Linked DNA regions of Homo sapiens. The protein of the gene in region 2 purifies or fractionates together with the protein of the main gene of each other region. This does not show direct contact. Each region holds a gene or a part of one and is shown on either strand. Other genes may lie near its edges. The genes, in order: IL13RA2, MAN2A1, DNASE1L1 and TMED5.

Region 1 (8,517 bases), on a different chromosome or scaffold from region 2:
GACCCTGTCCCAAAAAGATATTTTTCTCCAGGTTACAACTCCTCCTTAAAGCCCCCCAACCCAGAGTGGTCCTATTGTTTTCTGAAATTCTATAGCATTATCTGCACGACTCAAATGGCAATCATCTAAAATCATCTCAAAGGTTATATTTTTTTGTATGGATCCTGTCTCCCTTAACTTGAGTGTGTGCTCCAAAGGCAGGCACCATGCTTTATCATTTGCATGTGTTCTTGTGCCTGTGGCACACTGGTAATATGTGTTTCAGTCTATGATCATTTTAATTCACTCTTCTATTTCTCCCAATCCTGCTTTTCTCTTGTAACTCTTTCCGTATACCATTCTCTAATCTAGGGCCAAATAGTATTTCATGTTTAAAGTTTGATTTCGACAAAAGTAAATCCACCTCAAAATGAAGTCTTGTAAGCTTAATTTTTAAAAATTGCTGTATTTTCTGAAGATAACATCATAATCCATACGGAATCAATTGTACACCCACAGCGAACAAGCAAAATTATAAAATGTATCTCCATCAGTTCTAAGTGCAGAACATTTTAAAAATCTCCTATTCTCAGGCTAAACATCATAATGTTACACATCTTACCATTTTTGGGTAGGTGTTTGGCTTACGCAAAAGCAGACCGGTTACAAATATAACTAATATTAAGATGAAACCAAATGGTAGCCAGAAACGTAGCAAAGTTTTCTTCGATAGGTCTTCACCTAGGATTAAAAATCACACGGAAAGGGGAAGTGTTAGACATTTGCCACTATTTTTGAAACTGAATTATTTTATAAATACTTCAGAACTGAGTTGAGCTTGGAAACCCCTGTCATATTTGCCAGTGCATAAATACCACAATTGTGTTTGAGTATAGCGTTCCTTTCATTTGTGCAATTTTTATATAGAAAAGTACTTTACTGAACTGTGACATGTCTTATTTTCACTTAGAAAAATAACTTCCCCAAACACAATTCTTATTTCCTGATATGAGTTTGTTTATATTTGACCTTGTGAATTCTCCATTTAAAAATGACAAAATATTAGCCAAGTGATTAAACAAACATGTCCTGTGTGTCTGTCTCTTAACTCTCAGTAAGTCAAACGTGTACTTAGATCATAGGATACTGTACCAAGCAAGAGGTATCCTTCAATAAAAATTCCTGTGTGAGTAATGGAAATCATCTTTTAAGGTTACCTTTTTAAAGTTGTCTCATATTTTAAAGACCAAAGGGAGGGATAAGGTTTTTCTTTTCTTTTTGATTTTGCTTTGTTAGTTTAGGGATGGAGTTTTAATGGTTCTTCTGCATAGCAAGAAATGAGCAATCACTAGGCAAACTTAAAAAGCAGACGAAGTTTGGTCTCCCTAAACTAGTACCTCTCACTTGTTTTGGAGTAATATAAAAGATCTTGAATCTTAGCCACGCATCTACAAAGCTCTCTTGATCCCACCTTTTTCTTTGTCCTATTTCCTCACGATCTTGTTTTCTATTAGAAAATTATCAGTCAAATTCACGTGTTCAGAGAAGATTTACAAGAATATAATCCAGAGAAATTACTGATGTAAGTTATCTGTCATGCAAAATTAACAGTGGGAAGGCAGGAAGCTCCTTTGCTGAAGTTCTACTGGCTTTCCCCATACAGAGTCAATCCTGAAGAGGACATACTTTTATTTCCAAAAATATTATTGTCCTATTTTTCTATAACTTGAAACATCCAATAAGAAATGTCCTAAAGAACTGAGACCACATGCAACTCAAGAAATTCCTTGTTTCTAATTTCAAAGTCATTAAGATTCTATGAAGAGGGCTGGGCACAGTGGCTCATGCCTGTAATCTCAACACTTTGTGAGACCGAGGTGGACGGATCACTTGAGGCCAGGAGTTCAAGACCAGCCTAGCCGACACGGTGAAACTCTGTCTCTACTAAAAATACAGAAATTAGCCAGGCGTGGTGGTGCATGCCCGTAATCCCAGCTACTCAGGAGGCTGAGGCACGAGAATCGCTTGAACCCAAGAGGCAGAGGTGACAGAGAGCCAACATCATGCCACTGCACTCCAGCCTGGGTGATAGAGCAAGACTCTGTACCAAAAAAAGGAAAAGATTTCCCTCAAAGCAAGAGAAATCTTAGGCATCACTATCATTGATAAGATTGCATGTAAAATACAGAAAAGAATATATTTTTTGAGGATATGGCTAAAAACTCACCATAACCACTTTATACAATGCATTGACTAATGACGAGATATAGTTCAGGACATAACTTTAGAGTTTCCTGATTTTTTAAAACAGTAACAAAAATGAAAAACATAAAACTAGTAAGTCTTCTTTCTGATTCCATATAGCTCTTGGTTGAGTTTTCCACTGTCTTGCTATTTTTTCTCCATAATCCTTAGTGATTATATAATCTATTAGGCTTCTCGTTTATTGCCTATCTCTACCCAATTGGAAATAAAATGTAAGTTCACTGAGGGTAGAGATTTCTTTACTGCCATATCTGTAATGCTTGAAAAGAGTCTGATACATAGTAGGTGCTTAATAAATATTTGATGAATGAAAGGGATCAATGATACCACTGTATTCGTAGGGAGATAATAGAGATTCCACTATAGTAGAACAACATGAAAGGAGATGAATGATTGATAGATATGGCAGTATCTGTCTGTATCAGCATCAGTATATTTATTTAGAGCTGCATCTATATCTATGTACCTGAAAGAGCAATGCTGAGTTGATTTCCTTCAATTTTGAACATTTATTAGTAATTTCTACTCTTAAAGCTAATACATTGTGAAGCACAATCACATTTTACCTCATTCTTTAGGCTTTTTAGTTTATATTGCTATGTAATTTAAATGACTTTATCACAAATCACTTTAAATCAGTGTTAGAAGTGAATGGAATGAATATGTATTTTACTATTCATGACCTTTTAATTAGAAAAATATTCCTTTTGAATAGTATTAGACACCCAGAAACAAATGTATGCTGATCTATACTTGCTTTAAGATTTCTGTTCTCTTGAATACTGAAAGCATATGAAAATATTGATTAAAATAAGTTCCTGCCAATCTCTCAAAAGAATGAGCATATTATCTATATTGACAGAAAAACAAGAATTTTGATAATAGAAGTATAACAATATTCCTAGTCCTAACTGAATGAATATTAGACTTTTAATAAATCTTTATTCAATTGAAGTGCTCCCTAACTTATTCTCTCTGTTCATAGACTATATGGGAAAGTCCTTCACTTCTGTAATTACAAAATACACCAAAAGAAAATTAATTTTGCTAGCAAAGAGCTCATTATTTAGTTACTGTCCTTTTAGCTCATACCTTCCCAGCATTGTTTATCACTCCACTCACTCCAAATTCCGTCATCTGAGCAATAAATATTCACTTTGCTTCTTACTACAAAGCATAATTGTCGGGTTTCATTTGTTGTTTTCAAGGTGTATGTTTCATTTTCAACTGTAGCAGTCTGAAAGCCAAGGACAAAATCAGATGCCATTATTTGATCTAGTTGCAACTAGACAGATTCCATATCTGTCCCTTTCAAAGTGGGTTTTATTACATAAAATCTATGCAATCTATGCATCAAAAGACTGGATGCATAATCCCAGCAGTAATTAGCTCTCTGTATAGTGGGGGTTTTAAAATCATTGTTTCTTCCCTTCTTTATCTATATTTTATTTCTACAGTGATAATGGATCACTTACAGTGAAGGACAGCATGTGTGAGACAGCAAAATTCCTAGGTAGCCTTGGTGTTTATAACACCCAGTATGTGGACTAGTGTCAAATTTCCCAGATTCTATGAACTGGAAGATGCTACATACACTCAGTTACCAAAAGACAGAGCCAGCATGTGAATGTTATTACTATGGAAACTATAGAGTTCACATATTAATATATAGCTTTTTCTTTTTTCCTTATGCTTATTTCCTTATTCTGATTGTTAATAAGAATAAGGAAAACCTACATAACAATGCTCAGGGCTTGGAATAAGAATAAGGAAACAAAACCTGTATAACAGTGCTCATGGCTTGGTATGAAACTATTGCTACAGTTATGAGACTATCTCAAGGCTGGGTGATCTCAGAGTAAAAAAATCACTGAAGCAATTATTTCAATTTTGCATTTCAAAGAGCTGAAGAATTTTTCTCATTCAATATAATAGCTTTTCCTTTGGCATAACTTATCTTAGGAATCAACATAATGTAGTGTAGACTTAAGTGGACTGGGAACCAGATCTGATATCTAGTTCTAGCTGCATAATTTGATTGTAAGTGAATTTACATACCTGGGATCTATACATCAATTCAACAACCAGTTTTCTTATCTGTATATGAAAGGAATGAATTAGAACTACTGACTCACTAACTTCTCTCTACCACTCTCTAAACTGGAAACTAATAAGGAAAAATAATATATAACAATGTGTGATTAAAGGCATCACCACATTGTTGGTGCTGGTGGCAGTAATTAGTCTTGCAACCATTGCCTAATTCCCCAGGCAGCCCTTCTTGCCTGGTACAAGCAATTCTCTTGTAAGCCTGCCATACTGTAATTTTGACCTGATGGTTGTTCCTCAATAAGTGGTCTTTGTGGGTTTTTTTTTTTAATTTTGTTTTGCTTTTACTTGAGGCCTCTCCACAATCCATCTTAAGCCTTCACCAACTTTAATTTATTGACACAAAATTGAAAACAAGTGACTAGATAATCTCTAAGGTCCTATGTAACTTTAAAATTGGTATCATTCATTATACTTTTGTCCATTAGCTTATTTGGCTTTCTGGAAATTGAACTAAGATATATGTCATGTTCTGTCCCTCACGTGGATGCAACTGATTTTGGTTCTCACATTTGCTATTTTATTTAAAAGGCTGTAGTTATGATTTTCCCAAATAAATGCAATATTCATACCACCAAGGTAGTATCATCTTCTCTGATCTCAATTTCATAATCAAAACACCTTGCTGGAATAGGTCCCAAAGGTATGCTCCATTTCAGCTTAATTTCACATGAACTCTCCCGAGTAAAAGTAAGATAGACTGGCGGCAAAGGTTTAACTGAAAAGCAAAAGAGAACCATTTCAACACGGAGATTGTTGAAGTTTAGCAGTAGCCTTTATCCAAAGCTAGGGACATCTGGTAACAGAAACCTCCAGGGATAAACCAAGTGGCTCAGTAATATTCCCTATGATACGTATTAAAATCAAAGTTGCTTGCCAACCAAGATGAGTTTATTAACAAACTTGGTTATTTTGGAAACTCATTTTTGACAAGTCACCCACTGACAAATATATAAATCCAAGAGAAAAGTTCGAAGACCCAAATCATTACAACAATTTTCCATTTTGTAGCATTAGAAATAACAACCACAATCAACAATACTACTACTTTTACAAATAGATAACCCTATTTAGTGCTTATGCTATTTCAGACACTGTAAGTACCAAGGATGTTACATAATAATCTCATTCACGCCTCACAATAAACCTATCAGGTGGTCCTCTGTTATCCTCATGTTACTACTAAGGAAATTGAAACAGAGTAACTTGCCCAAAGTCACACGACTAGAAAAATGGTAGATCTAAGATTTAAACCCAGGTCTGGCAGACTCTAGAACCCATCACTCTCATAACCATTAGAACTGAAAATATAGACTCAATAAATATCCAGCCATTTGTCTATTGAGGCCTGGGAAGAAGTATCTTCATAATTAATCCATCACTAACACTAGACAAAAGTACTGTATAGCAGACAAACTGAAGATGGAAAATAAAATTGTGAGTTCTAAATGAAAATGATACTTTAACCTTTATTAAATTTCTTATCTTTCATCCTTAAATATTTAATAAGCGCCACCTCATACACTCTGCTGACTCTCATTTTTCTGTCTTTGCATTTCCATAGGTCTCTGTCTCTCTCTCTGTCTATGTCTCTCTCTCCTTCCTCCCCTTTTTCTCTCTCTCACCCTCTCAAGTGGTTGTAAATGGCCTAAACTAGAAACAATGAATTTGAAGTTGTTTGTTGGTTTACATCACCTATATTTTGAAGCTGAAAAGTGAAATAACTGGATCTGATAGGCTTGTTCTCTGATGATCCATTAACACAAATATAGAAATCTTTATAGTCTGATGCCTCCAAATAGGGAAATCTGCATCCTATATTTTGTCCATCAGCCTTGATGTAATCAACACACTGTAATGCATGATCCAAGCCCTCATACCTGTAAAATGAGTGTTGTGAGAATTGTGTTTAAATAACAATCTTTTCCAGTATCAAGGCACTTCATTTTCAATTATATTAGGATACCATGTCAGTTTAAAAATCATTTAATAATGTACAATATTTATTAAGCACCTACTATATGTCAGGCACTATGATAAGCAATAGGGAAAAAACAGTAGGGAAAGCAGACATAGTCCCCGATTTCATGGAGCTTACAATTTGTTGGGAGTCCTCGCAAAATCTCAAAGACAAGGATTCTTACTTGTGTACTTAGGTTATATTGATTCATCAACAAGGTTTGTGAATCAAAGAATAAGATTCCTAGTAAGAAAACCTGTGATTTGTACAAATAATCCTGCATGATATTGCCTTTTAAGTTATTTTACTGGGGAAGTTATTTTAAAAGAAAGCAAATTTTAAAGCAGACTTAGAAAATATTATGTTTAATAAAATGAATGAAAATCTGGAGTATACAATACACATCAAGAGATAAACCTCAGAAAAGCCAACTGTAGGAGGGCAAAAGGAAAAAGAAGGAGTTGTTTGGCAAGTAAATATTTAATTTTCTCATCTATTAAATGAGAAATGTTACCATATCATTTTAAGTTAACCTTATTCCAGTAATAAAGCTAAAAGGAACTAGGAGTGATTCCCTACTAAATTCGAAAGCAACAAATGCTTGCTATTTTCCTAAAGAATAGCTTGCAATGCAAACCATGACATTATCTGTAAAAGCAGTCAAATCCCTGTTGAAAAGAGGCCAATGTAGCAGCTGATAAGGTGCCTGTACACATATCTGGACTCTACTAAATTAACCTTATGCCAACTATTTACTTTAGGGAGAGTTTGCAAAATTGTTGTCTCTTGGTTAGTTCACTTGATTAGAGTTTGGGAGACTTCAGTTCCAGGCTTAACTCCATACAGACTTACTTGATGTCAGCAGGGAAGGCTTTATTTTCCAATCTCTAAAATGTTAATGTTTATTCCTCCCTATTTCACCAAGATGAGGATCAAATTATATCAAATATGAACCACAATGTACAGGAGGGCAGAGACTTTCTCTTATTCATGCTTTTGTCCTTTTTATCTAGAACACTGCCTGGCATTTAAAAGATGCTTAATATTTGTTGAATTAATGAACAAATAATTTAGATCTTTGAAATTTACCTATCCAATTCCAGATGAGGAAACAAAAATTCTAAAAGAAAAAATTACTTGCCCAAGGCCGCCAAGTTAAATGATGCTAGAGCAGGGATTAGAACCCAGATCTCAGGATTGTTAATAGTTTATAGCTTATGATTTATCTATTATTATTTTCTAAAGAAAGATGCCATGATAATTTGGAACTAGAACTCACCAATAGTAATGCTTAGTCCTCTCTTGATTTTTCCATTATTTAGTAAATGCATATGTTTGGATAATTACCTATCAGTTTATCAGTGCTATCACTTGTTTCAGCTATGTAATAAATATTTAGTGCTAATCTACTACGGGTATAGTACTTTGGAGGTAGGCAAGAGAAATATAATAAACAATTCATGCCCACCAATCCCTTAAAAATTTAACAGGAGACAAAGCACACATATATGAGAAAAAATTTAAATGCCATCTGGACAATAAACAATTACAGGCTATAAAAAAAAATAGTTCAAGGCCAGGCGCAGTGGCTCACGCCTGTAATCTCAGCGCTTTCGGAGGCTGAGGTGGGCAGATCACTTGAGGTAAGGAGCTTGAGACCAGCATGGGCAACATTGTGAAACCCCATCTCTACTAAAAATGCAAAAGTTAGCCAGGTGTGGTGGCACACGCCCATAATCCCAGCTGCTCGGGAGGCTGAGGCATGAGAATCGCTTGAACCCAGGAGGTGGAGGCTGCAGTGAGCCGAGATGGCACCACTGCACTCCAGCCTGTGTGACAGAGGGAGACTCTTGTCTCAAACAAACAAACAAAAAAAAAAACAAAGTAATAGCTCAAGAAAAACAAAACAGAAGCTGACATGATCAGTTAAAGGTTAATGAAACTGGGGAGCAGATGAGCCTTGAAAAAGATGGATAAAAATTGGTGAAAGAAAGATAGAGCCAGAGGGCATTCCAGAAGGTAATGCAAACAAAGGTATAAAAGGCAATAACACGGGTGAGAAAAAAATGTAGAGATGGATCTAAATTGAGTGGAGCATTCACATTGGTAATAGTAGACAGTATGGCAGCCTAGATTTTATCCTGGGGCAATGAGTAGACACAGGAGGTTTTTGAACAAGAGAGTGGTATATGAAAATGGCAATA
Region 2 (8,517 bases):
ATTGAGGAAAAAGATAAGTGAGTGTCATTATTTTATCATCTGTTGATTTATTAGGGATAGATGAACTTTTGGTTGCAGTATTATCTATCACCTTATTGATACTTAGCAATTTGTAGTCGAAAGTTAGATAAATGGTTGGGCGCAGTGGCTCACACCTGTAATCCCAGCATTTTGGGAGGCCAAGGAGGGTAGATTGCTTGAGCTCAGGAGTTCAAGACCAGCCTGGGCAACATGGCAAAACCCCTTTTCTACAAAAAATACAAAAATTAGGCATGGTGGCCTGCACCTACAGTCCCAGTTACTCAGGAAGGCTGAGGTGGGAGGATGGCTTGAGCCCGGAAGGCAGTTGCAGTGAGCCAAGATCACGCCACTGCACTCCAGCCTGGGTTGACGGAGCAAGACCCCGTTAGATAAATAGTTTTTTAGAGTTGGAATTTGTTAAGATGCTACAATGAACAATGTTCAGTTAGGATAAACAATGAACATGGGAAGAAACTAGATTTTACGTAGAGTTAGGGAGCTTTATATGTATGCATTTTATACAGACACAAAACCTCTAGCCGTATGGGAAAAATAGATTTTCCACTGGACCATTTTTCTCCTTAACTTTCAGCCCTTTAAAAAACAAATCTTTCTCACTCTTGACTATAAAGGTAGTAATACGCAAACTCTGGCACATTTTGAAAATGCCAGAAACTAAAGAAAACATTAAAATTTACCAACAGGTGCACAATCCCATGAAAACCATTGCCAACATTTGGATGTATTTCTTATTGTCTTTTATTTTATGCATATCCTTTTCTCCCCGTTCTCAAGTCTTGACTTATTGCATGTACATATTTTGTTTTTCATTTGTGACAGTGCTCACAATCTGATGGTATGTTTTTTAAAAATCCAATTTTAATATATACTGTTGTGTTTAAGATGTTGCTTATATTCTTTTTCTCCCGATTCTTCACTACCATAACATTGTAATAAGCTTTCTTTGTAGCATTCAAAAAGAATGCTACAATGCAATTCTGATTAATTGCTGAGAATAACTTTCTAGAAGAGTCATTTTGTATCAGTGTCTGAAGTCTTTTAAGGACTTTTGCTGTGTACTGCTTATCTTCCCTCTAGAAAGACTAGGTAAATGTTCAATCCCACCAGCATTTTTTGAGATTAACTCTAAAATCCCACTCCAAGCACTGAGAATTGGCCATATTACAAGCTTTGCCTATAATAGTAAGTTAGTAGAAAAATATTTTTCTGTTAAGATTTTTGTGGTTACTAGTAAGGTTGAACGTTTTTGTACCTTCATTTATCTTTCATATTTCTTTTGTGATTTTCCTATTTCTATTCTTTGACTGTTTTTCTGTTGGTGTGTCCTGATGATCTCTGAGCACTCTATATGTGGTAAAATTAATCCTTTTCCCTATATGTTGTAAAATTTTTCTTATTGTGTCATTTAGTTTGTTAATTATTTTATTGTATTTCTCATTTATAGTGGTTTTAAATTTTTGTGTAGTCATTTCTTTTTTTTCTGTAGAGTTTCTTCCTTTGCTTTTATACCTTTATAGGTTTTCTATACCTCAAGATCAGTGAAATGTTATCCTAATTATTGTCTTGTTAGCTAGGGACCTATCTCCTGAAAAAGTTACTTTTGTTCCACAAGTTATGAAACCTGCTAACTAAAATCCAATACTGGATTTTAAGGGATTGTGTAGGCTACAGTAAGGACTCTAGGTTTTTTGTTTGTTTTTGTTTTTGGTTTTTTTTTTGGCTGTTTGGGGTTTTTCTTTTTTTTTTTTTTTAAGTCAGTGAAGAATTAAAGACAAACTACAACTCATATGAGGCATTCCAGGATGGGCAGTGAGTCCCAAATATGAGCTGTTTCAGTGTTTTCTCATTCACCAGCTTTTGTCATTGGACATTTTATTTTGATTGACTGTATTTATACTTAAAAAAGTAGTTGTGCTATAGAATTTCATGCGTAGATACCAATAACTAATTTATTTAAAACCATTTTATCTTTAAATAGCTCTAATGTCAGATAGAAAGATAAAACAATTGTCATTTTTACAGAGAGAAAATAAAAAACATCAGGGAAAGAGGCAGTCTAGTGCATCAGAAAAAGGCAAGAGCCCAGAACTCATCATCCCAGGTTCTCATCCCCTCCCTCACTTTCTAGCTATTTGGTAATTAGGTACAAGAAATTTGTAAACCATTAAGCATTTTAATAACTCCAGAAAATTTTCCCTAGCCAAAGAGGTAAATTTGGAAGAAAATTACACAATTCTGAAAAAAAAATTTTTTTTTTTTGGAGACGGAGTCTTGCACTTTCACCCAGGCTGGAATGCAGTGGCGCGATCTCAGCTCACTGCAAGCTCCGCCTCCTGGGTTCACGCCATTTTCCTGCCTCAGCCTCCCGAGTAGCTGGGACTACAGGCACCCGCCACCAAGTCTGGCTAATTTTTTGTCTTTTTAGTAGAGACGGGGTTTCACCATGTTAGCCAGGATGGTCTCGATCTCCTGACCTTGTGATCCGCCCACCTCGGCCTCCCAAAGTGCTAGGGTTACAAGGCGTGAGCCACGGCGCCTGGCCGAAAATCTTACACTGTTTAAGTAGTTCATATTGCAAGCCTAACTTTCTATGCTATTGTTGAGCTAAGGTATCTAATACTTTAAAAATATAATTACTCATAAATGTTTTAAATTTGCTTCCATGTCACATAAGTTATGTGCTTTATTACCATTTTTTAAAATTTAAATAAAAACTAAACTAGTGGTTTCCAAGTAGTTTTTTCAAGTTTGTGAATTTATATTCAGCTAGTTCTTTCAAGTAAAAGGACAGAATGTTTTATAGTTTAGTAAACCGAGCTATGATTAAACTATGTTTCTGAATCCTGCTTTCAGTTTGCTTAGATGACTCCCTGTAGTCATCCTTGCCACCTGTCCCAAACCCTGAACATTAGGGGGCTGGGACCATGGTTATAATAATTATTTACCTGGGAAAATGTAACTTCTGTAGAATGATTGCTGTTTCTAATAAGTAACTATATGGACAAATAGAAGGATTTTAGTTAGAAATTTGTATAGCTGGGAGGAATGCTTTCTAGACCAGTGAAGTTGTAAACATTTTTATTTCCTATTTTCAGCATTTTTAAAAATAAAAAACACGTTCAGTTTTTATCACATGCATATTTTGTTACCTTGTAAGATCTGGTTTACACTTAAAATTGCAAATATCAGGTGATACGTATTTTCTATTTTTGAAACCATAATAAACATATTCTTTTAAAAGTTTGGAAGCCAAAATATTTTTCTTAAATATATTATTTTCTTTTCAGCCTTATGTTTACACAACACCGCCCTTTGTCAGAGTGACACATGGAAGGATTTATTCGGAAGTGACTTGCTTTTTTGACCATGTTACTCATAGAGTCCGACTATACCACATACAGGGTAAGAAAATAGGAATGCAGTTATGAAACATATGTATTATGGTTTTTGAATTCTTGCTTTTCTTATGCCATTCTTAAATTAACAGTTGGTTTTTGTAGATGATGTTTTTCTAAACTTGACATTTTTAATATGATTTAAAATATGAAACTTACCCTTTGATAATAAAAAATGGTAAAACGTTTCAATCCCTACATATACATGTTCCTCTGTATATCTTCTCTTAATTGTTGCCATATTGGTCTTGAGCTCATTAACTGGTAACTTTATTTTTAACACCTGAAAACAATACAGTGTTTTGATTTTATGAAATGGAAATTATATTAAATACGACTTTCAGTTAATAGACCACACACATATATGGGGCCTGCTTCCTTAAATATAGCCTGTATCACTGGAATGTAACTTTAAGAGAAAAATGTTCTAAGCTGGTTCTATTTGTTTACAGCTCTTTACCCAGTAGAGTATAAAACCTAGCAATTGTTTATCATTTTTAGAACAGTATTGAGCAGCATCTTTATGAACCCAAGTGATAGGAAATAGGCTTTTGATCCTTTTGAGAACTTAACCCTGGGCAATGGAACTGATTCCATGGGGTCTGAGTGGAGCTGTGGTTTCCAAAGACTTGCACATTTAGGTTGGTTGATTTAGAATTCATTGTTTGTAGAATGGTGTGCTTTTCCAACTACAGATTTAATCCTAATAACCAGGGTATTTACCATATTATCAACACTCTTAGAAAAAGACCTCATAAAAATGCCATTTAAATTTATCTTTGCTGTTAGCTAAGTTGAACAAATTAGAAAAGAAAAAATACTATTTCCCTGAATCTTCATACAGGTAAAAAATAAAGGATTTCACAAACTAAAGATAAATGTATAGGTAGGCACGGTTTCCTTTTTAGGTATTGTGGGAAAGCAAAGGGATACTATGTTCAGGGAATCTCTTAAATCACAGAAGTTCAATTTTCTGATTTCATAGTTAAATTTAATTTTGCTTTTATTTAACTTTTTTATTAACTTCAAATTTCATTAGTATTTGCTTTTTGTTAGAATTTCAGGTATGGACAAACTTTCTCATGCAACTTCTTTAGGTAATAATATGATAGGTTTTTCAGAATAACCCATGATTCATAGGATGAATCAAGAAGTAAAAGTTCTCTGGCAGGTGGGAAAAATAATGCTAGACACTAATTTTGTGTCCTAAATGTGACTTCTGAAGTTATCTGTGATCACTTTGCTACCTACAGGAAAACCTGTAGTTCTGAAATAATCTTCTATTGAGTTTCTCAAAACTTCTGGTAAGTCAGAAACTGTTTTTGATCATCTGTTTGTACTCTTGTGTAAGCCATTATTTAATACCCCTGAGAGCTCTAAGTTACATCTTCAACTTTATAGCATTACCCCACAGAAGATATGCTGATCTATTTTTAAGTTTGCTTTAAACTATTGTTTTTTAGTGGAAAAGTTTTTCCTGGAGTACAACATGGCACACACTTTGGCACAAACTTGTGTCATCAGGTTTGATTTACCATTGTTTTTCATCAGTTATATTTAGAGATGGGCTATGTCTCAGAGGAAATGCTGTAGCAACTCTTCCTAAAATTCCAACTTCTCAATCAGGTATATTTGCATAATTGCTTTTGCTTTTATTTAATTATGTCACTGTATCTTCTGGGTTTTCCTTGGATTATCCAGGACCTCTAGTTCTCACATCATAGGGCAGTTTGTGTAGACTAGATGGCCCTGTTCTGCTGCTAGTGGCTGTAGCTTAGTGCTTGACTTGGAAATTAATAGGCTCTGACTTGCCTATTTACTTATTTGAGCAAACTACACTCATCAGAACTAAATGCTTGTCATTTTTCCTTTCCCCCTCTCTTCCTGTTTCCCTCTGGGCAGTGAACTGTCCAGTGGCTAATAGTGTTAAGCAGGAGCCCGGGCCACTGAGGTTTGACTGGCTCCTGGCCTTCCAAAGGGGCTCTCAATGTAGCCCATTTCTATTTGCTGGTCTTGCCTCTGCCTCTTTTCTCTTTTTTATTCTTTAGTTTTCTTTCTTTCTTTCCTTCCTTTTTTTTTTTTTTTTTTTTTTTTTTGACAGAGTCTCGCTCTATCGCCCAGGCTGGAGTGCAGTGGAGCGATCTCGGCTCACTGCAGCCTCTGCCCCACTGGTTCAAGGATTCTCCTGCCTCAGCTTCCTAGGTAGCTGGGACTACAGGTGTACACCACCACGCCTGGCTAATTTTTCTATTTTTAGTAGGGATGGGGTTTCGCCATGTTGGTCAGGCTGGTCTCGAACTCTTGACCTCAGGTAATCCACCCGCCTTGTCTTCCCAAAGTGCTGGTATTATAGGCATGAGCCACTGCACCTGGCTTGATTTTCTTTTTTCATGTGTTTCCTTTCTAGATTATTTGTCTTCTCTTCCTTGGTGTTCTCGGGCATATGAAAAAAATAATAAATGATGGATAAATAAGTGTAATGCAAACTTAGAGCGCCTCACTGATGAGTTTTACAGTAGTTGCCTGGATTAAATGAGAAGCCGTCATATATAAACTGGACGTAACCTGTAAATCTTTTTTCATTCTAGTCCGGATCATTTTTTTTTTCAACATGAAAGCAGTTGGTAGGAAATAGAGATACCAGAATCACCTGAAATGCTTTCTTCCAAACTATATACCTTCCCGTGTTTGTATTTGAGCTCCTCTTAACAAATCTCCCTCTGGGAAAAGATAAGCCCGGTTGTGGAGAGAGTCTTTCCTTAGTAATCTTCATGACTCACCTGTCTCTCCTGTTTTTCACATACCATTGCCTGAACACTCGGGTTGTCTCAATCCTGGCTGATTGTGGTTTTAATGAAATCACTAATCAAGGCCCATGATAGATATACGAAGTCTTCAGGGTATTTGGCTCTATCAGCGTTCACGCTGCCTGAAAGGGTGATCAGTCTTCAGGGATCTGTTATTTAGTGCCAAGTCTTCCTTATTAAGAAATACTGGAAAGTTGTTTAACATTCTAAACTTTGGCCTCCTGTAAATCAGACACCTGGATGATTGATCAAAATGCATAGACAAAATGTGGCTTTTCATTTTAGATGCAAAGGAAACGTCAGCCAACTTCCATGCTGTTGTAGATTGGCTTTTAGCTAGTATTGCATAAAATAACAAAAAATATTTATTCTTGAATTTAATTTACTAAACTAGTTTTGGATATATGCTACTTTTGTCCCCCTTAAACCAACCAGATGCAGTTATTTGCATGAGTATTAATGAATAGAGCCTATTTGTTGTTAGTACCAGATTTTCAATCCAGGAAGAAATGAGGGTTTGGGGAGAGAGACTATTAATGTTTTATGATTACATACTGTAATTGTATTAGGTTACTAAACCAGTTAATTATACAAAAGATTTTGTAATCTCAGCAACAAGGAATAAAGAAACAGAAAATGAGTTAGTATTAAAGATTGTCTTTGTTGGGTGTCTATTTTTGTTAAACCTTACAAATCCAATTTAAAAACTAAACTAACGCATACCTGACAAAATATTCTTACATTTCTCAGTCTCTACTTTAGTTGTTCTTTGACCCTTTTCTCCCCAAAGTAACTATTGCCCAAATTAAGCTTCAGGAGAAAACAAAATCAAGAACGACAAGCAACATTTCCAAAATTATATAAACTTTTTGGTCCTTAATGATTTTGAAACAGAGTTGAGAGGCCGTATAGTTCAACCTACTTTTGTTTTTGGTTTGGTATTTAACTTTTGTTTCTCTATCTGCATTCTCTCCAGATTCTGAAAATGATCAGAAGTGCAGTTGAAGGGCTCTCTCTTTCTTAACATCTTTTAAACTAATAAAAGAACACTCTGTTTTCCTTTTCATTATCGTTCAGACATCGCATTCAAAAGGTTTCTAAAAATACTAAATTAGAAGAAATCTTGTGCTCACTAGCCTTAAAAGCTCTACAAGATCAGAGCAGTTCAGAATTTCTAATGAAGGCGTGGCACGGTGGCTCACACCTGTAATTCCAGCACTTTGGGAGGCCAAGGCAGGCGGATCACAAGGTCAGGAGATCAAGACCATCCTGGCTAACAAGGTGAAAGAAACCCCGTCTCTACTAAAAATACAAAAAGTTAGCTGGGTTTGGTGGCACGTGCCTGTAATCCCAGCTATTCGGGAGACTGAGGCAGGAGAATCGCTTCAACGCAGGAGGCGGAGGTTGCAATGAGCCGAAATAGCGCCACTGTACTCCAACCTGGGCAACAGAGCGAGACTCTGTCTCAAAAAAAAAAAAAAGAAAAAAAGAAAAAAAATTTCTAATGAAATATATTGTTTTGCCCATGTCAGGTTTAATAAATCCATTTTATAGCACCCATAATTTAATGAAATGCAATTTATTTCATTTGTAGAAAATAACACTCTTCTGGGGGAAAAGTTGAGGGAGGTGGGAATTAATTTTTCTTGCAGTATAATCATCTTTCATTTAATTGAAGCTTTAAACATTACCATATAGGCTGCTACTTTAGCTTTTTTGGTTAATCTGTAATTAGAAGATAGAATATAATACAAACAGAAGCTCCTGTATCCTCTTGTGTTTTATTTAATACTGCACCTACAAGGAAAGTACATACCTTGCAATAATATAATACCAATAAGTGACATTGTTAACTGTGGCCTTATTTGTCTTCAGAGCTGTAATTATTGGACTTTAGTGTCCTAGTTTCTGATATCAACAGCTACTTTGAAGAATTAGGTCACTGTGGGTAACGAGTATGTCGTGTACATTTCATTGGCGCAAGGACTGTGTTCTCCTAGGCAGGTGTTTGTTAGCGAGTTAGTATGTATGTGTGTGTAAACCATGTTTTAACCCTTAGGGGAAACATCTTAAATGCAATACTTCTGCCCTGTTTTCCACCAACATATTATAAAGTATTATATGTAATGGATCTTACTCAAAGAAAACAAGCAGCCTGGAGGTAAAATGTAATGAACTGACATCAAAAAGTATGGAAGGAAAGACTTTCCTTTGACTGAAATGACTGATTTTCTTGCATATTTAGCAATCGAACAGAGTTGCTTAGTTTTTCT
Region 3 (2,760 bases), on a different chromosome or scaffold from region 2:
TCAATGCTGATGAATTTGAAGACATGGTGGCTGAAAAGCGGCTCATCCCAGATGGCTGTGGGGTCAAGTACATCCCCAGTCGTGGCCCTCTGGACAAGTGGCGGGCCCTGCACTCATGAGGGCTTCCAATGTGCTGCCCCCCTCTTAATACTCACCAATAAATTCTACTTCCTGTCCACCTATGTCTTTGTATCTACATTCTTGACGGGGAAGGAACTTCCTCTGGGAACCTTTGGGTCATTGCCCTTTCACTTCAGAAACAGGTTGACAACTCAGCCCTGCTCATGAGGCAGCAAACCCTGCAAAGGGCTGGGACTGGTGGCCTTATGTCAGTTGTCTACTCTGGAGCTTGACTTGGACCTCCCCAGGTCCTAGGCAGTAGGTTGAAAAACACTGAAGTGCTTTTCATGAAGCACAGCTGCAGCAAAGCCTTGCAATCCCAGGCTGGGGTCAGCCTACAGTTGTGTTGCTTATTACAACACATGCGGACCAAGAGGGGCTTGTGGGCTAGAGGCTGACCAGCAGCGTTTATTTAGCAAGGGTAGGTGTGCATCACATTGGGCTTGTTCTCACCCATCTGGTTTGGCCATTCCTCCTTGGTGGGAATCATCCAGGTACTGCTGAGGTCACCTGCGATTTGCCCCATTTCCTATCTCTAGCAACCTCCTGGGCCCCATGCCCCCACCCCTTCTAGAACCTGCATTCCCAGGGCCTTCACCACCTGACCAAAGGTCTAGGCTAACCTTTGGTCATTTGTAACAAGACCTCGGAACAGACACGTGTGTGGCATGGTTTGGCCTGGGGATCTTAGATGTCTGACCTGAACTATTGTAGAACAGCGCTGGCTTTTGGGGGAGCAGCAAAAATGAGAGGAGTGCTAGGTGGGTGGCCTGAGCATCTGTATCCAGGGACAGGACTCCAAAGGCTTTTGGTCCCAGAGCTGGGGTATGTTGGCCCCAGCCCCCAGCCTGTGGCTCCCAAAAGGCCTCTGGTTTTTTGTAATCTCAGTTTACAGCCATTTCTTAGGTTTTTAATTACCTTTATTTTATTTTGCCAAACATACCTGGGAATACCTTTTATTTTTTTTTTACCTTGGGGTGATGGTTCCAAACCATAAATGTGATTATAGTTAACACATGACCCTTCTAGCGTCCCAGCCAGTGTTTTTCCTGACCTCTCTTCTTTGGAGAGGAGGATGGAAGGGAGGGGTCCGGCATGCTGCTGGCATTTTGCTGTGTCCTGCAGCCCCTTTCCGGGACACCTGGGTTCACACAGCTTTTTAGCTTACATAACTGGTGCAGATTTTCTGTGTGGAGATGTTGCCTTGACCAGCCTTGGCTGGACTTTACCAGGCATGCAGAAGCCTGTACCAACACAGACTACAGCACCCAGGAGGTGCGAGTGTGGCTGCTCAGCGGTTATAACAGGCCTGACTGCATTGTTCACCGGATTATAATGAGCCAAAATGTTTCCCGGTGTTTGCTGGTTTCAGGGAAGGAGTTTGATATAGCAGATTAACCACCCTCCTTGTAGCTATTGGGGCTTAATGGTTTCCTGGTGATTCTTACCAATCCACAATAAACATGGCCCATTGGCATATCTGCTGCACAAGTGTCCTATCTCACCAATCTGGGTTTTTGTTCTCAGTAACTTTCCTTCTTGTCATACAACATCTTCATTCCTCTTTCTGAACCCTCCCTTCCCCTACCCCAACCCAGAGCCCACTTTGTCTCCACTCCTGATACTACACTACCTGGCAGGTGGCATGAGTGCAGGGCCCCTGGCTTCCTCTCCTAATCTAGGCACAAGCCCAACCAAAGAACAAGAGCCAAATCAAACAAGGCAGGCAGGGGTGGACTACAGTCACAGGGCAACTATAGTTGAAGCCCCCCAGCCCCAGGGCTGGATGGACGGGGGAGGCTGGGGTTTAAGTCCCAAAAGGCAGCAGGCCCTGGGGGGGTAGGGGGACGCTCAGGCAGCAGGGCACAGCTGAGGGGACAGGAGTGATAGCAGCAACAGAACAGTGAGGCTGAGAGGCTGGACGCTGTGCGCCTGGCTCAGCTTCAGCTCCACCTCCACGGGGTAGTGGTCACTGATGTTGAGGGCCTGGGAATGGGTGGTGGGGCAGTGTCAGTGCCCGGGGCCGAGGGGCTTCCCTGTGACCCTGCTGCTGCCCTCCCTCCTCATGCCAGCCCCATCCCTTCACCTCCTCCTCGGTGAGCTGGAAGCTCGTGGGGAAGTCAAAGGCAGCCGCAGTGTGCAGCAGACTCCGGCAGCGCTCCCCGTGCAGCACGACGCGGTCATAGGTGCAGTGGGTGCTGGCCCGCACTGTGGTGTCCTCCCCATCGGCAATCACCCAGTGGAAGCCTGGCTCAGTCCGCAGCTCCAGCTTGTCCAGGCGCTTTTTGGTCAGTGAAGCGCAGTCAGCATTGAAGTCCCCAAGCAGGATCACGTCCTAGAGACACAGCAGCCATCAGGCTGGCCGCTGGGCCACCCTATCCTTGTCCCTCCTGTACAAACTGCCCAGGCCTACCTTGCTCTGCCAGTGCTGGGAGACCTCCAGAAACACATCGTAGAGGGCGTTCAGCTCCTTCTCTACGGCCTTAGGAGTGGTGTGCAGCGGGACCAACACCAGGCTGGGAAGGACTGCAAGGCCCAGGGACCGAGGGCTGCCATCCACTCCTGGACCTTCTCCCCCTAGCCCGTCTGGGTGAGGAAGCCCCCAGTGGAGCCAGCCAGAACTCCCCTTCTGCTCCCACA
Region 4 (8,517 bases), on a different chromosome or scaffold from region 2:
TGAAAACAGTAGATGACTACAGGTATCAAAATATGTGCTGTATTGCTGGAGAAATGAGATTGATCTGGACTGCAATATTTGTTAGGTTTTACCTTGAAGGATGGGTTAGCTTGAATAGAGGCTACATAAGAGAAAATCTAGTTTCAACATGAAGGAGCAGAATAAGGCCTGGAGTCAAGAATGAGCGTGTCACTCAATATTTGAGGGCCTAGCATTTTCAAAGACATTACAGTAGTCACCTCTTGTCTGTGGATTCAAGTGTTAAGTTGCATGCCATTCTGAGTAGCGTAATGAAATCTCACACAAGAGTCATCCCCTTGTCCAGCCTATCCATGCTGTATATGCTACCTACCATTAGACACTTAATAATCTTGGTTATCCTATCAACTATTGCAGTATTGTAGTGCTTGTGTTCAGGTAACCCTTATTTTACTTTATTGTGGCCCCAAGGTATAAGTGTAGAGATGATGGCAATTGGATATGCCAAAGATAAGTCATTAAGTCATAAACTGAAAAGGTGAAAGTACTTGAGAAGAAAATTATATGCAGAGATTGGTAAGATCTAAGGTAAGAACAGATCTTCATGAAATTGTGAAGAAAAAACATTCGTGCTAGTTTTAAGATGAAAAAGGCATTAGCCCATTTATGCCTAGTGTTTTATTATTGGAACGTTAAGCTTGTGAGAGTTATTTATATCCTGCTGCTCAAGGTCATTGCCAAGGTCTGATTTTTCACAGATTTTGCAACCTCCGGTATAAATGGGTTAAATTTGTGGGTGGAAGACACGAACAGAAAGAAATGTGTTCCAGCTGACGTCAGGGTGTTGCCGCGAAAGCACTGAGCCTATACAAACATTCAGCAAGGGATCTCCTGAAATGAGTGATACCAAGCCATTTGCTGCAAATAAGGGATGGTTACACAGATTCAGGAATGGGTTTGGACTGAAGTATTTAAGAATTACTGAAGAGGCTGTGTCTGTTGATGAAGAAGCTGCTGCCTCATTTCCGGCAGAGTTGAAGTTAAGGAGCAAGGATACCATTCAAAGCAAGTCTTCAATTGCAGTGACATCAGGCTCTTCTGGGAGAAGATGCCCAATAGAACTTAGATTCATAAAAGTGCAAATGCGGCGGTATCAGGGCATACAGCATGGAAGAACAGATTAACTCTGGTACTATATGGCATTGCTGCAGGGCATATGATAAAGCGAGGTGTAGTGTATAGAGTGAAGAACCTACATGATCTCGAAAACAAAACAAAATATTATGTGTCTTGGCAACATAATCAGTGTGGGTGACAGCCATTTTTATGGAATGGTTCCACCAGTGCTTCATCCCAGAAGTGCAAAAATACTTGAAAGAGAAAGGGTTAGAATTTAAAGTATTAATAATGGACAATACATGAATCTGTCTGCTATGAAAATGAAAATGTTGAGGTGGTATTTTTACCTCCAGATAAAACCTCACTGCTTCAGTCCCTGAACAGGGCATCATTCGGTTTGTCAGGGCCACATACAACTGCCTGATATTTGAACACATTTGGTCAGCAATTGCTGCAGACCCTAATACGTATATAATGCAGTGCTGGATATCATTCACTATTGCTCATGTGATAACATTCATCAAAGCTGCAGTGGATGAATTAAAACCAGAAACAGGTAAATACCTGCTGGAAGAATGTGGAATTATATATATGATTTAAAGGCTTCCTAGGGACCCATGGCAAGTTTAAATCATGTAGCAAGACAAGACAATCCTTCACAGAACTTGTGAAGGATTTGCTGATGTGCTTGATGAAGAGCATATCAAAGGCCATCACGAAGTGTTAACAAATGAGGAATTGGAAGAAATTTTTGAGTCATCTGCAGAGGGAGAGGAAGATTAAAAAAACTGAAGCAGAATAGCCAACATAGACATTAATTAAACTTGCCGAAGTGTTTTGAATTGCACAGACATTAAACAACAGAATTATAGAATACGATCCTCAGATGAGACACAGCATTAAAGTTACCAATATGATCACCAAAGGATTACAGTCTCTGCAGCAACACTTCGATGAGCTGAAGAGTCAACAACTTCTGGTTACAGTGTTCTTCCAAAATTTTTCAGCAAAAAGACCCCAAAATAGAAATCCTTCACCTATTGAGGATCCCCAACCATCAACATTGTCTGCTCCTTAACCATCAACATTACCTTGGCTCAGTGATCCAGGATTACCCGAAGTTATTTTGATGATAATGTAGCCTAACTACATCACTTATACCTACATCAGTCACCTCATTTCATCTCTTCATGTAGGCATTGTATGACATCTCACAGCCTCACAAGGGTGAGTACAAGATATTTTGAGAGAGAGAAACCACATTTGCATAACTTTTATTACAATATATTGTTGTAATTGTTCCATTTTGTTAGCTATTGTTAATCTCTTAATGTGCCTAATTACAAATTAAACTTGATCGTAATTATGCATGCATAGGAAAAAACAGGCCGGACATGGTGGCTCACGCCTGTAATCTCAGCACTTGGGAAGTTGAGGCGGGCACATCACTTGAGCTTAGGAGTTCGAGACCAGCCTGGGCAACATGGCGAAATTAATTAGTCAGAAATATGTATATACCAACATACTAATATGTTTCAGCTATAAATACTTCTAACATTTCACATGTATATTTATGTAATCACCACAATCAAACTACAGAACTTTTCCACCACAAGGCTCCCTTTATAGCCACATTCTCCTTCCCTTCAGTCCCAAGACCTGGCAACCACGAATCTTGTTTCCCATCTCTATAGCTTTATTATTTAAGAATGTTACAAAAACAGAATCATACAGTGTGTAAAACTTTAGGATTGTCCCCCCAAACCACCCAAGCATAATTCCCTTGAGGTCCATGCAATTTGTTACATGTATCAGTAGTTTGTTCCTTCATATTACTATTTAGTATTCCATGGTGTGGACATACTAAACCATTCACTCTTTTTGAAGGACATCCAGGTTGTTTCCGGGTTTTGGCTATTATAAATGAAGGTGCTATGTAACATTTGTGAATGTTAAGTTTTAACTTCTCAGGGATAACTGTCAAGTAGTACAAATGCCAGTTATATGTTAAATGTATGTTTAGTTTTATAAGAAACTGCCAAGAATATTTTCCACAGTGGCTCTACTATTTCATATCTCACCAGCAACGTATGAGTGGTCCACTTATCCAATTTCTCTTGCATCCTAGCAAAACAACTCTAAAATTTATCATTTGGAACTGTCTTTTCTTTCTGCAATGGTATTACGTGTCCTTTTAGAATTGAAATCAAGGGTAGAAAGGTTAGATTTAGTCCAGCCTCCCATTTCATATTAGCTGTAGTAACAATCCCCTTTACAACATTTGATCATTATTGCCACTTAACACTTCCAGGATTAGGGAGTAGTATCTTTCTTTCTGAGGGAGTTTATATCAGTTTGGGTAACAGATTCTCATTGTTCATTTTACTGCTTTCCTATTTCTTCCTCATCTTCCATAAAAGGCACAATAATAAATCTAAGCTTGTTAAAACAGAAACAAAAACAACACAAGTACTAAAACGAGGGTTTTTGTTTGTAAAACTGTCAATTAGGATTTTAATTCATGGTCAGTGAAGACCTTCAGGATTTTCCCTGCCCTGCATTTTCTTGCCTTTTTCTTTCAGATGCAGGGATCCAGAGTCCATCTCCATTGTGCCCTGTCTTATGTAACATCATCCTAGCTCTAGATTCTTTAATTGGTGTCCTTTCCCCAGACGTACATTAGGTGTATGGCTCCAGGTTATGACAACAGCCTTCCAGAAGCCTTAGACACCTGAAAGTGATAGCAGTGCAGAAGCAGAAAGGTGCCTAAGGATTTCTACCAGCTTGTGGTAGAAGAGTGGCTTGTCTGGATGGTTTGAGGGAAATGACCAAATAATAACCTACCTACACCAAGCATTGTACTTTTCCTATATGCTAACAAGTTTTAAGATGTTTCTGAACAAGTTTTAAAATATTTCTGAAAATGAAATAGTCTCAAAGGAGTTTTGATTTTGCAAGATCACTTAGCAAATGATCCAAGGATAACTGACAGGATTCTATATTGTGTTGGTTGAAAATTAAGAATCCTGAGCCATATTCCAGACCTGAATAATCAATTTCTGGGGTGAGGTGGAGCAGGTAAGTTCCCTGGGTGCTTATTTAGCATACCAAACTTTAAGAACTGATTATCTTTCCTTTCATATATTTTGAGCAAAAACTGTACCTTTTAGGAACAGTGCATGTTTAGGCAACAGGTGAATAAGTACATATAGAAACAGAACTCCAATGCAAAGTAGAGTGATGTACAATAAGAGGTGTAGAGAGCTATGGGGTTTCAAAACAGGAGGAGAGAGCACATTATTAACTAAATAGAGATGAAGGAAGGCTTTCAGGAGTAGACAGCATTTACAAATGACTGGCAGTTAATTTTCTTTGATAATTTTTATTATATACATATCAGTACTCACAATACGTTGCTTATTTAAGATGGCTGTTTATAAGTATAAAGCAGTTTGAGCAACACTGATTGTGCATTATTGTACTTCAGATGAAAAATCCTTACATGTGGAATCAATGTCTTTTAAAATTTCAGATAAAGAATTTTCATTTGAGGAGACATACAATTGTAAGTGCTCATTTTTTGTCAATTTTAAGACACCATTATGTGTAAGAAGGATTAATTTTACCATAAAATTACAAACACCCTCCATGTCTTGACATTCACATGAAAGAACAGCATAACATTAATCATCCAAATGCATATCAGAGCAAACTCTAGGCCTTAGTGTGAGGTGAACACGGTAACTGCTACATTATGGAAATCGGTTGGGCCTTAGTTAAATATTGTAGTATTTTTAAAATTTGTATATTGAAAAAGACAAAATGAGCTGTTAAGTGATAAACAGCTTACTCAATTTAGCATAACTTTAATTTAGAAATGGAATAGTGAAATTAAAAAAAGCATATGAAGCAGATAAACAGTATGTCTTTAGAAATATTAAAGATTTTTACTCTGTTTACAAGTTTTGCTTTTTTGGTTATGCCTCTTAAATATCTGTCTTTTTACTTTGTCTATAAAAATAATTGTCCTTAGTATTCCTAAATTCTTTTCCAAATAAAGCAATTATCGTTTTTATATGGTAAGAAGTTACTGAATCATAGGTTTAAGATCAGTGGCACAAATCATACATGTAGAAGATTATGTAACAAATTCATTGTTAGGTAAGGAGTCAGAGAGTACAGTACAGTAACAGCCATACAGGAGAGGTAGAATTCTTAATCACAGTTTTATAGAAAAGATGCAGTAGTTTATATCTGTACCCTGCTTTATTAGTTATGGTACTGTAAATTTGCTTCTCATTGCAAATTTAACAGCGCAAAAGGGAGGGGTATTCATAGGCAAGGATCTTATTGACCTTTGTTCTGCAAGTGTTGCAGAGGATACCCCTAGACACCTGAAGCATTTTCTTGGCCAATTAAGGTAATTGATCATATACGGCATTTACCTCATTTTTAAAAACCTTGCCAGTAGGGAAATCTAAGCTGCTCTTCTCCCAGGGGCCTAAGAGGGAAATGTATCTCTTTTTATACTACTATGAGTGTAAATGAAATCACTCTCTGGTTATCATTATTGCTCATCAAGAATTCCAGCATTACTAACCTGTTGAGGGGTTCTATACCCCAAATTTTAAGTTTGTTTCTAACTCACAATGTAGTCATAAACAACGTTATAAATGGGCATAACTTAAAAATTATAGTTCATTCATGATGAAGTTAAATTACTAGTACTTGAGTAAGACCCCCATAGACTTCAAAAAGCTAGATGGCAGAAACTTTGTTGTATATATGGGTTATTCACATTTAGGTGTTTAAAACTTGGGAGTCTATGTTTCTAATCCTTACTTCAACATCAATAAATAAAGTGTTCAGAAAGGCCATTTTAATAAAAGTTGTTATAATAAAAATTTTTAATAAATATGTACACCCAGTGCTAAACCTTACAGTAGGGCTTACATTTTATAAAATGTACCTGCTTACAAAAATAATTCAAACCAGAATTCTTGTAGAAAATAAAAACCTACAGCCAAAGTTTCTTCCAGCTAACTGGAAATTAATCATCTCCTTTGATTTATGTTATGAGTAGGATGTCATGATGAGCCAGTCAGATTCTAGATATTTATTTATAGTTCTACTTAAGTGAATTTTATTTTGGATTAGGTTTTCTCAAGTTTTTCTAAATTCTTTCCTGTTTCTGATAATTCTTAGAGCTCAGAAAAGGAGATATTTATTTATGGTAGGCCCAGATCATTTTAGCAATATTTCCTTCATAACTGCTGGTAATAATGAATTATCCAAGTCAGCAATCATGTTAAAATTAACATAACATGATTATTAACTGTTGACAGATATTAACTTGACAGATACTATTAAAAATAAACTTATTTTACCTCACATTTAATTTTAAAATCCTACACTTTAGTTAAGGGTTAGAGAAAATGTGTCCCTATGGAGGAGGAAGCTTTTAAACTATATTCTTCATTTCAAAGAGAAAACATGTCCTAATTTTAGTAAGTGTAACTTTGTGTTTTTAAGAATCGTGAAAATGTCAGCTTTTGGGAATGTAAGCAAAGTACAAAGACTAATGCTTTCTGCTAATATGTTACACTGAAATGTATTTGGTTATAAAAATCTCAAAAACCTAATTGTATTTCAAAGCTATTATTCTATTTACATTATAGGAGAGATGCATATGTAAATAGAGAAAAGTTGGGCTTTTGTAGTCTAAAGATTTATTCAATCCATCATTAGGTAATTCTCAGGTGATTTATAACTTAAAACTGAAAACTTCCACAGTTAATTTGTAACTGCCGCATTTACAAAAAAGTTCTGGGTAATAGAACCTGTTAAAAACAGACTGGTGTTGCAATTAGGCCCAATACTCATTTATTTAAATCACCTAAGACATTTGCAAAATTTTTCAAAGTTAGGAAAATGCAGTTATTAATATGGCTTCATTCAGTTAAACCTATATTCTGCAAAATATTCCTGTTACACACTTAAGTACAACTGGATCAGCAGGATTACTTGCACAGAAAGTGAAGACTTAATTTTCACATTAAAATTATACCTGTTTCCTACTTTTATATCTCAAAATATTTTGGAGAAGACCATTAATGGTCTTGACTGTAACAGTTTATTGCATTTTTATGCCTCATTTTTCAATGTTACGTACTCTAGTTTGGAGTTTTAAGTTCTACTTTTCCTCTTATCTTCAAACAGACTCTTCAGCATATAAACTTGAATGGCTGACACCACCACCATGACCACTAAATTAACCATAGACCAGAAATTGACTCTATCAAAGTTGCTTTCTTGTATGTTTCGATCACGAGCTTCAAATGCTCTAAGCAGAGTTTGTATGTGCCCACTTTTGCTTAGTCTGGACTTGATGCTGTTGATGGATTCCTGGAGATAAATAAAATAATTTTATTATTAAAGAATGCTCAGAAATTTTAACTTAATTAAAAAATGAGGCTGGGTGCAGTGACTCATGCCTTGTAATCCTGGAACTTTGGGAGACTAGGGCAGGAGGACCCCTTGAACCCAGGAGTTCAAGACTGGGCTGGACAACACAGACAGACTCTGCCTCTACAAAAAGATGGGTATGGTAGCACCAAGTGTGGTCCCAGCTACTTGGGAGGCTGAGGTGGGGGGATCACTTGAGTCCAGGAGGTTGAGATTGCAATGAGCCATAATGGTGCCACTGCACTCCAGCCTGGGCAACAGAGTGAGTGAGACCCTGTCTCAAAAAAAGTTTTTTTCAAAATATGCTTTATGTTTTTTATCCAAACACAATTTTAAGTTAGATGGCTGCACAATTCAATTAAAGGGCAGGTACTATTTATATTACATTAGAGATTCTCTGTAAGGTTATATAATAGTTCTCCTGACATATTTATATTGTTTATAAGTAGTTATTTAACAAGGGAACAAAGCTACTGTGAATTGAAAATAGGTAACATGAAATTATTCTGAGTGGCATAGCATCAGGAGTTTTACGTACATTATCTCTTTCTTAGTCCTCACACAACCAAAGGAAATGACTAAGGTTTTTTTTTTTTTTTTTTTTGTCGGGGGATGGAGTTTGCCTAGGCACAATCTCGGCTCATTGCAACCTGAGACTGTGCCTGGTCAAATGATTAAGTTTTTAGAGATGGGGTCTTGCTATATTGGAGTGTAGTATCTATTTATATGTGTGACCATGGTTCACTGCAGCCTTGAACTGGGCTCAAATGATCCTCCCCCTAACCTTCTGAGTAGCTGGGATTACAGGTACCTGCTACCATGCCTGGCAAATGATTTCATTTTTAAAAACCCAATTGATATAACTTTAGGTATTTACCTATTACATAATGCATGTGTTTATAATATTTCCTTCTTTGTATGTTTATCTGAACAATTTAGTATTCAGTAAAACAC

What was found.
Region 1: the proteins of MAN2A1 (region 2) and IL13RA2 purify together in Homo sapiens (co-immunoprecipitation; one large-scale study listed by IntAct). This does not show direct contact.
Region 3: the proteins of MAN2A1 (region 2) and DNASE1L1 purify together in Homo sapiens (co-immunoprecipitation; one large-scale study listed by IntAct). This does not show direct contact.
Region 4: the proteins of MAN2A1 (region 2) and TMED5 purify together in Homo sapiens (co-immunoprecipitation; one large-scale study listed by IntAct). This does not show direct contact.

The regions. Positions count from the first base shown.
Region 1 is NC_000023.11:115,004,596-115,013,112, forward strand, and holds part of IL13RA2 (interleukin-13 receptor subunit alpha-2 precursor), read right to left. Parts: intron 6,234-8,517; coding exon 6,049-6,233; intron 5,072-6,048; coding exon 4,926-5,071; intron 3,482-4,925; coding exon 3,337-3,481; intron 721-3,336; coding exon 602-720; intron 1-601. UniProt on the Homo sapiens protein: Cell surface receptor that plays a role in the regulation of IL-13-mediated responses. Functions as a decoy receptor that inhibits IL-13- and IL-4-mediated signal transduction via the JAK-STAT pathway and thereby modulates immune responses and inflammation.
Region 2 is NC_000005.10:109,820,394-109,828,910, forward strand, and holds part of MAN2A1 (alpha-mannosidase 2), read left to right. Parts: intron 1-3,329; coding exon 3,330-3,444; intron 3,445-8,517. UniProt on the Homo sapiens protein: Catalyzes the first committed step in the biosynthesis of complex N-glycans. It controls conversion of high mannose to complex N-glycans; the final hydrolytic step in the N-glycan maturation pathway.
Region 3 is NC_000023.11:154,400,736-154,403,495, forward strand, and holds the end of DNASE1L1 (deoxyribonuclease-1-like 1 precursor), read right to left. Parts: intron 2,647-2,760; coding exon 2,534-2,646; intron 2,456-2,533; coding exon 2,207-2,455; intron 2,107-2,206; coding exon 1,972-2,106; 3' UTR 501-1,971; downstream 1-500. Other genes in the region: RPL10 (large ribosomal subunit protein uL16), read left to right, coding at 1-288.
Region 4 is NC_000001.11:93,147,386-93,155,902, forward strand, and holds the end of TMED5 (transmembrane emp24 domain-containing protein 5 isoform 1 precursor), read right to left. Parts: intron 7,504-8,517; coding exon 7,285-7,503; 3' UTR 2,357-7,284; downstream 1-2,356. UniProt on the Homo sapiens protein: Potential role in vesicular protein trafficking, mainly in the early secretory pathway. Required for the maintenance of the Golgi apparatus; involved in protein exchange between Golgi stacks during assembly.